Homo sapiens: one gene and its partner. The protein of the gene in region 2 purifies or fractionates together with the protein of the main gene of each other region. This does not show direct contact. Each region holds a gene or a part of one and is shown on either strand. Other genes may lie near its edges.

Region 1 (4,249 bases), on a different chromosome or scaffold from region 2:
ATGCAGTGGCGCAATCTCGGCTCACTGCAACCTCTGCCTCCTGGGTTCAAGCAATTCTCCTGCCTCAGCCCCCCCAGTAGCTGGGATTACAGGCACCCATCAACACGCTCAGCTACTTTTTGTATTTGTAGTAGAGACAGGGTTTCGCCATGTTGGCCAGGCTGGTCTTGAACTCCTGACCTCAGGTGATCCGCCCGCCTCAGCCTCCCAAAGTGCTGGGATTACAGACATAGGCCAACGCATCTGGCCATAAAACCCACTTTCTAAGGGGGTTAAGAATGAATGCCTATACTTAACCAAGTTATTCCAATAAATAATAATAAAAACAGGCCATGCATGGTGGCTCACGCCTGTAATCCCAACACTTTGGGAGGCCAAGGCAGGTGGATCACCTGAGGTCAGGAGTTTGAGACCAGCCTGGCCAACATGGTGAAACCCTGTCTCTACTAAAAATACAAAAATTAGCAGGGCGTGGTGGTACGAGCCTGTAGTCCCAGCTACTCAGGAGGCTGAGGCAGGAGAATCACTTGAACCTAGGAGGTGGAGGTTGCAGTGAGCTGAGATCACGCCACTGCACTCCAGCCTAAGTGACAGAGTGAGACTCTGTCTCACCAAAAAAAAAAAAAAAAAAAAAGAGGAATAAAAACAGTTCTTGGCTAGGCGCGGTGACTAACGTCTGTAACTCCAGCACTCTGGGAGGCCGAGGCGGGTGGATCACCTGAGGTCAGGAGTTCGAGACCAGCCTGACCAACATGGAGAAACCCCATCTCTACTAAAAATACAAAAAAATGGCCGGGCATGGTGGCACTTGCCTGTAATCCCAGCTACTTGGGAGGCTGAGACAGGAGAATCACTTGAACCCGAGAGGCAGAGGTTGCGGTGAGCCGAGATCACGCCATTGCACTCCAGCCTGGGCAACAAGAGTGAAACAACATCTCAAAAAAAAAAGAAAGAAAAAAAACACAGTTCTTATTTTGTATTTCAAATCTTGCAGGAATATTTTTCCTTTAATGATGAAGAAAATATTCTTCCTTTACAGATTGGAAAAAAATAGACCAAAAAAATAATCACAGAAGGATTCCCAAATCCCACCTCCTATTCAACTACTCTTGGTATGCATCTAGGTTTTACAAAAAAATTCTGAATGGACAGATGTCCCAATTCAAAATAAGCCTACACATTTACTGTCTAGTTCTTTTCAATAATAGTCCTGCACAGTATTAGCAATATTAGATTGATCTAGAAATACAGAAAGTCTCAGCTAGCTTTTTTTTCTTTTTTTTTTTGAGAGGGAGTCTCACTCTGTTGCCCAGGCTGGAGTGCAGTGGTGTGATCTTGGCTCACTGCAGCTTCCGCCTCCTGGTTTCAAGCGATTCTCCTGCCTTAGCCTCCCGAGTAGCTGGGAATACAGGCTAATTTTTGTACTTTTAGTACAGACCGGTTTTCACCATGCTGGCCAGGCTGGTCTCGAACTCCTGACCTCGAGTGATCTGCCCGCCTTGTTCTCCCAAAGTGCTGGGATTACAGGCGTAAGCCACTATACCCAGCCCAGCTAAGCTTTTTAATCAAAGTTTATTTTGATTGCTCTGCATGTTGGTCACATACATGACTGATAAACTAGATGCAGCCCACATCTAACCCAGTTTGCATCCAACATCTGATTTTATAAGGAGCTGACTTTAGTGGAGAAGCAGGATTACTGTTTTAATATTTACAGCGTGTAAATATTTACAAATGACTACTCAAGAGACTGAGGTGGAAGGGTCACTTGAGCTCAGGAGGTGGAGGCTGCAGTGAGCCAAGATCATGCCACTGCACTCCAGCATGGAAAAAAGAGCAAGACCGTGACTCAAAAAAATAATAATAATAATACAAATGAGTCAACATCTCTCAGTTGAAAAATACTGCAGAACAATGAATTTAACATCAAGTACATAAAAATGTAAGGGAACAATCATAATTGGACCTATATTTAGCTGGCCACGGTGGTTCACACCTGTAATCCCAGCACTTTGGGAGGCTGAGGTGGGCAGATAACCTGAGGTCAGGGAGTTCGAGAGAAGCCTATTCAGCATGGTGAAACACCATCTCTACTAAAAATATAAAGATTAGCCAGGTGTGGTGGTACATGCCTGTAGTTCCAGCTACTCCATAGGCTGCAGCAGGAGGACTGCTTGAACCCAGGAGGCAGACATTGCCGTGAGCTGAGATTGTGCCACTGCACTCCACATTGCAGCCTGGGTGACAGAGTGAGACACCATCTCAAAAAAAAAAAAAAAGAACTATATTTAACATCAATCACCTGTGGGTTCCATGGTCTACAGCAAAGGCTACATTTCCAAAGACAAACACTGCCCCAAAAAATAAAAGAGCTAAGAAAATCATGTTTTCTACAGGCGCCCGCCACCGTGCCGGCTAATTTTTTGTATTTTTAGTAGAGATGGGGTTTCACCGTGTTAGCCAGGATGGTCTCAATCTCCTGACTTCATGATCCGCCTGCCTCAGTCTCCCAAAGTTGGGGGATTACAGGCGTGAGCCACCGCGCCTGGCCAGGAAATTTTCTTTTGTTTTTTTTGTTTTTTTTTTTCAGACAGAGTTTTGCTGTGTTGCCCAGGCTGCAGTGCAGTGGTGCAATCTCAGCTCACTGCAACCTCTGCCACCTGGGTTGAAGCAATTCTCCCACTACAGCCTCCCGAGTAGCTGGGATTACAGGCACATGCCACCACGCCTGGCTAATTTTTGTATTTTTAATAGAGACGAGTTTCATCATGTTGGCCAGGCTGGCCTCGAACTCCTGACCTCAAGCACTCTGCCCACCTCAGCCTCCCAAAGTGCTGGGATTACAGGTGTGAGCCACCACACCCGGCCCCTCATAGGAAATTTAAATGCCAGAACTACCAGTTCTTTTTCTTGGAAGAGATCTACTATACTACGTCTAGCAATGTTTTCTTTTTTTTTTTTAAGCCTATATTTTTAATACATTTGTTCCCCAAAAGGTCACTTTCTACTTTCAAAAAACATGTGAGTCACTCGAGATGAAAAACAGCTTATCTAAAAATGTGTTATAGCTCCCAATAACTCCAAACTGACATCCCAAGATATGAGGCTGTTCCACAGTGAGAGAACTTGGAAACTGGAACTCTCTGATTACTTACTTGTTAAAAAAAGGTTCAATGAGTTTTGATCTGGCAGACACATGAATTTTTGGAGGGCTGAGAAAAGAACCTAATGAAGAAAAGAAGAGAGGTATTATTATTCATAGTCACATAGACCAAGCCTGAAAGTTCAGACCAAAACAGATTTAAATTAACAGCATGGTTCAACAAGTGTGAAAGGTATTCTTTTTTTTTTGAGTCAGAGTTTCACTCTTGTTGCCCAGGCTGGAGTGCAATGGCGCAATCTCGGTTCACTGAAACTTCCACCTCCCAGATTCAAGTGATTGTCCTGCCTCAGCCTCCCGAGGACCAGGGATTACAGACATGTGCCACCATGCCCAGCTAATTTTGTATTTTTAGTGGAGACAGGGTTTTTCCATGTTGGTCAGGCTGGTCTCAAACTCCTAACCTCAGGTGATCCACCCACCTCAGCCTCCTAAAGTGCTGGGATTACAGGAGTAAGCCACTGCGCCCGGCCTGTGAAAGGTATTCTTACGCACCAAGTACCATACCACAGCAAGTGTCAGTGGTTTTTCTTGCAGATTTCCTCCTCCCCTCATCTCCTCCCACTCCTACCTCAAAACCCTCCCACTTTTAATTGGGTGAGTGGATCCCAAGGAAATGGTAGTGCTATAGGTTCAATGTTTGTGTCCCCCTAAAATTCATATGTTGAAGCCTCCCCAGTACGATGGTATTTGGAAGTGAGACCTTTGGGAGGTAATTAAGTCACGAGGGAATTAGTGCCCTTATAAGAAGGGTCAGGAGGCTGGGTGCGGTGGCTCAAGCCTGTAATTCCAGCACTTTGGGAGGCTGAGGTAGGAGGATCACTTGAGCCCAGAAATTCTAGATCAGCCTGGTTAACACAGCAAGACCCTGTCTCTATAAAAAAATTAAAAAGTTAGCCAGGCACAGTGATGCACACCAGTAGTCCCAGCTACTTGGGAGGCTGAGCCCAGGAGTTCAGCGTTGCAGTAAGCTATGATTGAACCACTGTACTTCCAGCCTGGGTGACAGAGTGAGACCCTGACTCTTAAAAAAGAGGCGGCACAGCTTCTGCTCTCTCTGCTCTCCACCACGTAAGGACAGGAGAAGGC
Region 2 (6,031 bases):
TTACTACGTAGTTTTCTATTTGAGTCATCACCCAAGTCTACTGGCAAAAGAATACCTAAAATTGTATTTCTATTATATGAAAAGTATATTTTAATAGCACTGCAATTTCTAAGAGGCCTCAGATTTTAAAATGTTAAGTGTAATGTTAAAAGTAGGCATATAAGATTTCAAGAACAAAAGTATCAAGAGTATGTTTATTGAGGATGAATAGTGCTCTCCTATATTCCATTTATCCAAATTTTTCTATAGCACATTGCTTGTTTTAATTTCAGTCTCATCTCAAATTTAAGAAACCAACACAGATCAAGAGAATGAGGTGTGTACTCTTACTTTGCCTGTCACTGGATTGCTTTTGAAAACTACTTTTTGGACATTTGTTTTCATCAGCACACATTACCCAGCCTGGGTTACAGGGCACAACATGAGCATCACCACAGGGACTTGAGCATTGCTCACAGAGAGGAGATGGGATGAGGAATAGTTAGGAGTGTGGGCTTTTGGCCCTGGACTAGAATCTGGCTCTGATTTGGGACAAGTTAGTTAAGTTCCCTGAACCTCAGTTTCCTTATCTATCAAATGGGATCATAAGCATGCCTTCATCATACCGATGAAGTGATGATGAAATAAAATTACGCACGTAAGTTCATAGGATGCTGCCTGACTGGTTTAAGTTCTCAGCAAACTAGAAACACTCCTATTTCCAGAGTAACATTAAGATTTTAAAATGAAGTTTTCTTTTAAACTGAGGTGTTTGGGAAACAGTGCATTTAGGTGACTTTCAGGTCATGAGTCAATGCAATTACCTCCCCATTTACTAGATCTGGGTGTTGGGATCTACAATAAAGTCTCTGAAGAAAACAGGTATCGAACTAAGGAAAGAGCTGAGCAGGGAGCCTCAGTGCTTTGCTGGGGACATCACAGGGTAAATTAACACCAAGAGGCAGCCACGGTCTCCTCACGGAGCTGGGGTACTTTAGGAAGGGCTGATACCAAAGAGGCAGAGACGGCCCTCCAAGGATGGCACCTCAGGGCCCCCCATTGTGCAGAGGGAACTTCCCATACTCACAGCAGCTGCAGAGAAGGCAGATGGGAAAACATTCGGTCCTTGATTTCTGAAAACGTCCCATTTACCAGGCTCCTACGGGCAAAAGATGAACAAAAGTAGGCCTAGGTTTCTTTTAGGAAGTGCCATGCAGGGTGGGTAATCAAACTCTGCCTCCACCTGTACTTCAAACCCTGACTCTCAGGAGTGAGGCATAGCACAGTTGCCCAGGATCTTCCCCGGGGTAGGAATAAGAAGAGACAAGCCACTTCCCAATGAATCAGATCAATATGAAGACTAGTCTGAATAACAGAAACCTTTACCATCAGCTCCTTCCACAGACATTATCTCGGTCAGTTTAAATCAATCCCTTCACTTCCTTTTCTTAACTACAGGAGGTCCTTGCCTGAAAATGGATAATCGCTTCACCTCTGCCCATGATTCTGTTTGTGTAGACACAGCGTTGTGTTGGCCTATGAAATGCTGGGGTAGGATTAAGCATTCCTCTTGGGACCCCATCTCTGAAAGACAGAGCACTCCTGATTAAATGCAACATGAAAGCCCTGGGGAAAAACTCACAGACACCTGAACTCCCCTGTGTGGGGAGAGGCAGTACCATCTGCCAGATAAAACGGTCAACCAGGAGGCAAGATGCTTGGCTTTATTTCTGCCCCCAGGCCCCCATCCTTTCTGGCCACAGCAGGATCTGAATACATTATTTCAGAATTCCTTTCAGTTGGCATGCAGATCACTTAAGCAGCTGCTGGTCTGAAGGATTTAATAAGGGGAACTCTAATTTCTGGAATCCTCCATGTCACCCGACTTAGCAATATTAAGAATCAAAAAGGTCCTCTGTTCCCACCAGCCAAACTCTTCTGACTTTCTATAAATGCAAATGGGAACCCCCTCACTCCTGGGTCCAGGCCCCTACAATTTGCCTTGGGTGGGAGGCTGGGAAGCACTGGACACAAGAAAGTATCTTGAGCACAAGCAACGTCACCCCGGGGATTCCCTGCCTCCACCACTGACTGGGCACCCAGGCATCTTGGCCTGGAACAAGAGAGTGGTCTTAGCAGGAAACATGTCCTAGCAGTAAAGATACAGCCCAACAGCCCCTTCCACCGCCCTTGTGAGAGCTGGTCATTTGGCTTGAGTGGCCAGGTGAGGGCAGGATGAAAGCACCTCTCGGCAGGTGGATACCTAATGTGAAGCCCTTTCCTGTCAGTTCCTCCTGCTGAAAAAGCAGCCAACACAACTGTGTGATGGAGAAAGGGGGCAAGAAGCCCTCCTGACCTCAGGGCAAGAAGGCTGACTTCAAAGCACTTGGCCACTGGGCTAGGCGCCCAACATGCCCCAAACCTCTGCCCAGCCTTCTGTTACCCCTCTTCTAGGCCACGGGGGGCGGCCCCTCCCCTCCCAGAGCCTGCATGCCTTGACCTCGACTTTTTGCAACCTGCAATGTGGAGAAGTCGGGAGGAGGCCACGGGGTGAACATTCGCCCCAGACCTGATGTGGGGCAGTGAGGCCTCACCCTGCCCAGTTTGCACTCAGTCAGGTCGTGTTCAGCTGCTCCTATGCACGCCCCTACACACACAACTCCAACCCGCAAACACACACACACACACGCACACGCCCTCTCAAACTTTAATGCACCCTTGAGTCTCCCGGGGACGTCAAACGCACACTCCAGGACTCCACTCCAAAGACTGCTTCAGAGCAGCTGGATTCTGCATTGGCACAAGCTTCCCCAGGTGAGTCTGATGCAGGTGGCCCGTGGGCCACACTCTGAGAAACGCTGCCACAGGAACCTGTCTGGGTTCCCAGATTCTGGGGCTCAGGTCCTCACCGTCCTCCCCGGGGGCCAACACTCCACCCACGTCCCCCACACAAAGGCAAAGAAGGGGCCTGGGGAGTGGGTCAGGGTCGCGCTGGCCCGGCGCCAGAGGCAACTCCCTCGCGGCGGCGGACGCAGGGTGGGGCGGGACGGGATGGGGGCTGGAGGGGTCCCACTCACAGGGAGCTGATGTCGCCCGGCACGATCCTGGGCACCCAGGAAGAGCCCACGCAGATGATAGACTCCTTGGTACAGCTGCAAGTGGCGGGGCAGCGCGCCAGCCGCCTCACCTGCGCGCTCCGCGGTATCAGGCACGCGGCGCCCAGCAGCAGCAGCAGCAGCCCGAGCGCTCCGCAGCCGCCTCTCCGCAGCGCCATGCCCGGTCCCCGCTCCCCGCCCGGGCCCCGACCCCCACCGCCGCGCCGCGCGCTCGGACCCGGCGCCGCTGCAGACGCGGGCGCCGCTCGCTGCTCTGCCGCCGCCGCTGCTGGCGAGGACTAGGGAGCCGCGGGTGTGGGAGGCCGAGCCGCAGCCGAGCAGCATGCTGGCCGCCACCCCCACTCGGCGCCCCCCCACCCGAGCCCGGGCTGCTGGGCGGCCGCCGCCGCTGCGCCCGCCGCACTCGCGCCTGCCTGACATCAGCACTCGCGCCCGCAGCCCGGCTCTGGCCAATGAATAATGCATGGCGGGGCCCGCCCCGCGGGGGAGGGGGCCAGCGCCGGCCCCGTGGCGCCCCACCCGGCCCCCACCTCGCCACCCCCTCTCGCCCCGGGCCGGGCGCGGGGACAGAGGGAAAAGTTGGGTGACCTTGGGGGAGGGGCCAAGCCTGGCGGAGACCCCCGTCGGGGCCTGACTGAGCGGTGGAGGATCCGATGCCTGCAATACCTCCAGGGGTATAATCTGGGGAGGGCACTGGGTTCCTTTCAGGCAAATCAATAAAGTCGGAGCGGGGAGTGTGGAGAACCGGCTTGATTACTGGGGAGGGAGGCAGCCCTGGGTGCTTTGAAGAGGAGAGACTTTGGAGCAGCCTTTATTAATTTTGAAGTGCATGCTGCCGGTAGGGTCAGCGAGGATGGCTTTGCTTGTCTTCTGCGGTGGGGCAGTGAGGTCTGGCTCTCGCTCCCACAGCACCAGGGGTTACTGAAGCCAGCCAGTCCTCCCATGGGAGGAACGTGGGGAAGCAAAGCCGCTGCAGCCTGCACGCCCGGCGCTCTGGGCCCTGCCTGCTGCCTGCTAAAGAGCTGGAAAGCCCGGGAAAGTTTCCCCTCGCTCAGCTGCCCACGGGTCACCCCACCCGCCCCAGTCAGAGGAGGGTTTGTAGAGATTGAGGGTGTGATACATTCTAGCCACTGTACTTTTAATCTTCTAACCTTTTGAGGCAGGTCCTACTTATATCCTTAATTTATTGATGAGGCTGCTGACGCCCAGAAAGCATCCTGACTGGCTGATGGTCCAGCAGCTCCTGGCTGGGCAGGATGGGGCTCGGAGCCTTGAAGGGCTACCTTAACTGGGCCCTCCTGAGCCCCTCTTCAACTCCTTAAGTTTGAAGCAATGAGCGGAAATCTTAACACAGGTAATGTGCGGCTGAGGAAATCAAAGAAAATGACCAAAGCGGAAACAAAGTAATGGCTAATAACCTGAACTGCTGGGAGAAGGGAATCACAGCACGACTGTCGAGCTGCAAACCAAGGAAAAGCATGCCAGATGCTAAAACCTACTCAGAAAAGTCAGTATCGAATGCAAAAGTAGGAATCATACTATTGCTTCTTCAGCAATTATTGTTGGTGATCCATTGACAAGATCCATGAGGACGGTATCAGGCTGGCTGCTGTGGGAGGGAACAAAGGAACAGCTCCTGTCCTCAGGGAGCTAAAAGTCTAGCTGGACAGACAACCCTAAAAGAGCAACTCCACTGGCTACAAGGGGGTCACAGACTGACCAAAAGAGGTTCAGGAATTGAAAGAGAGCTTTGCGTAGGCAACTTCATGGAGGGAGTTAGACATTCCCTGCTGGTGACTATGTAAAAAGCACCTGGCATCAGTACAAACCAGCCTGCATTTATCATCATTTAATTCTTGCATCTGTCCTGAGAAATGGGTCCTCCCATTTTATGGATGGGAACATTGAGCTCAGAGAAGTTTTTATCTTGTCCAAGATCACACAGGACATGGCCAGGGAGATCATACTCCACAACTGGCTGCTGTGTCTAACCCTCGCTGCTGTGTGGGCATGCATTTACAAATACTTTACTCAGCAAGCCCCAGTGTTAGGGGCTGAGGACACAGACCACAGCCTGGGAGGGCGACAGACATGCAGACCCACAATCGTGGATGTGTGTGCTGTGCACCTGAAAGATGTTTCCCTTAAGAGGGATGGGCTACTGCTTTATAGAGCAGAGGAACGGAGGCTTCTCAAACAGAGCACTCCCTGCTGACCCAGGAAAAGAAAATCTATTTCTCACCTCTGAGTGAGAGCCTGGGGGCAGGGTGGCATAGCTAAATGCTGGCCTCAGGACTAGACAGGTTGGGGTTTGCATCCCAGCCTACCACTTACTGATGTGTAATTGTGTAATCCCAGCCTGCCACTTACTGCTGTGCAAGCTGTGATCTTTCTAAACCTCCATTTCTTCACCTGTAAACAAGAGGTTGTTGTAACCACATTTGGGGGTTAAATGAGATCAAGAAAGTAAAGCATTTAATACCACAAAGGAGGCACTGGGCGTTTGAGCAGAGTTCTATGTGACTAGATTGTAGGTAAGTGACGGAGAGAGGACTATGGAGGGAGATGGGTTTTCCTGACTTCTGTCCTTCCATTGTAATCAGAGTCACTGTCTTGTGTTGTGGTTCTCAATTGCGGGTAATTCAGGGGACACTTGGCCATGTGTGGAGATATTTGGGGTGGGTGCCCCTGGCGTCTAATGTGTAGAGGCTGGGGACGCTACTAAACATCTTGCAGTACTCAGCAAGAATGATCCAGGTCAAAATGTTGCTAGAGCCAAGGTTGAGAGAGCCTGGCTTAGTGTTCTGGAAAGACCCTTGGCATGAGGAATTCCAGAGATGCAGATTGTAAGTCAGGTTCATCAATCACAAGCAAACCTTCTTGGTCATGTTATTCCCATCTCTAGCTTCTATTTTTTCATCTATAAAATGGGGATA

What was found. The genes of interacting proteins can lie anywhere in the genome.
Region 1: the proteins of LGI2 (region 2) and PARN purify together in Homo sapiens (affinity purification with mass spectrometry; one large-scale study listed by BioGRID and IntAct). This does not show direct contact.

Annotation. Positions count from the first base shown.
Region 1 is NC_000016.10:14,577,719-14,581,967, forward strand, and holds part of PARN (poly(A)-specific ribonuclease PARN), read right to left. Parts: intron 3,226-4,249; coding exon 3,156-3,225; intron 1-3,155. UniProt on the Homo sapiens protein: 3'-exoribonuclease that has a preference for poly(A) tails of mRNAs, thereby efficiently degrading poly(A) tails.
Region 2 is NC_000004.12:25,027,441-25,033,471, forward strand, and holds the start of LGI2 (leucine-rich repeat LGI family member 2 precursor), read right to left. Parts: upstream 3,507-6,031; 5' UTR 3,254-3,506; coding exon 3,057-3,253; intron 2,794-3,056; exon of another isoform or gene 2,668-2,793; intron 1,139-2,667; coding exon 1,067-1,138; intron 1-1,066. UniProt on the Homo sapiens protein: Required for the development of soma-targeting inhibitory GABAergic synapses made by parvalbumin-positive basket cells.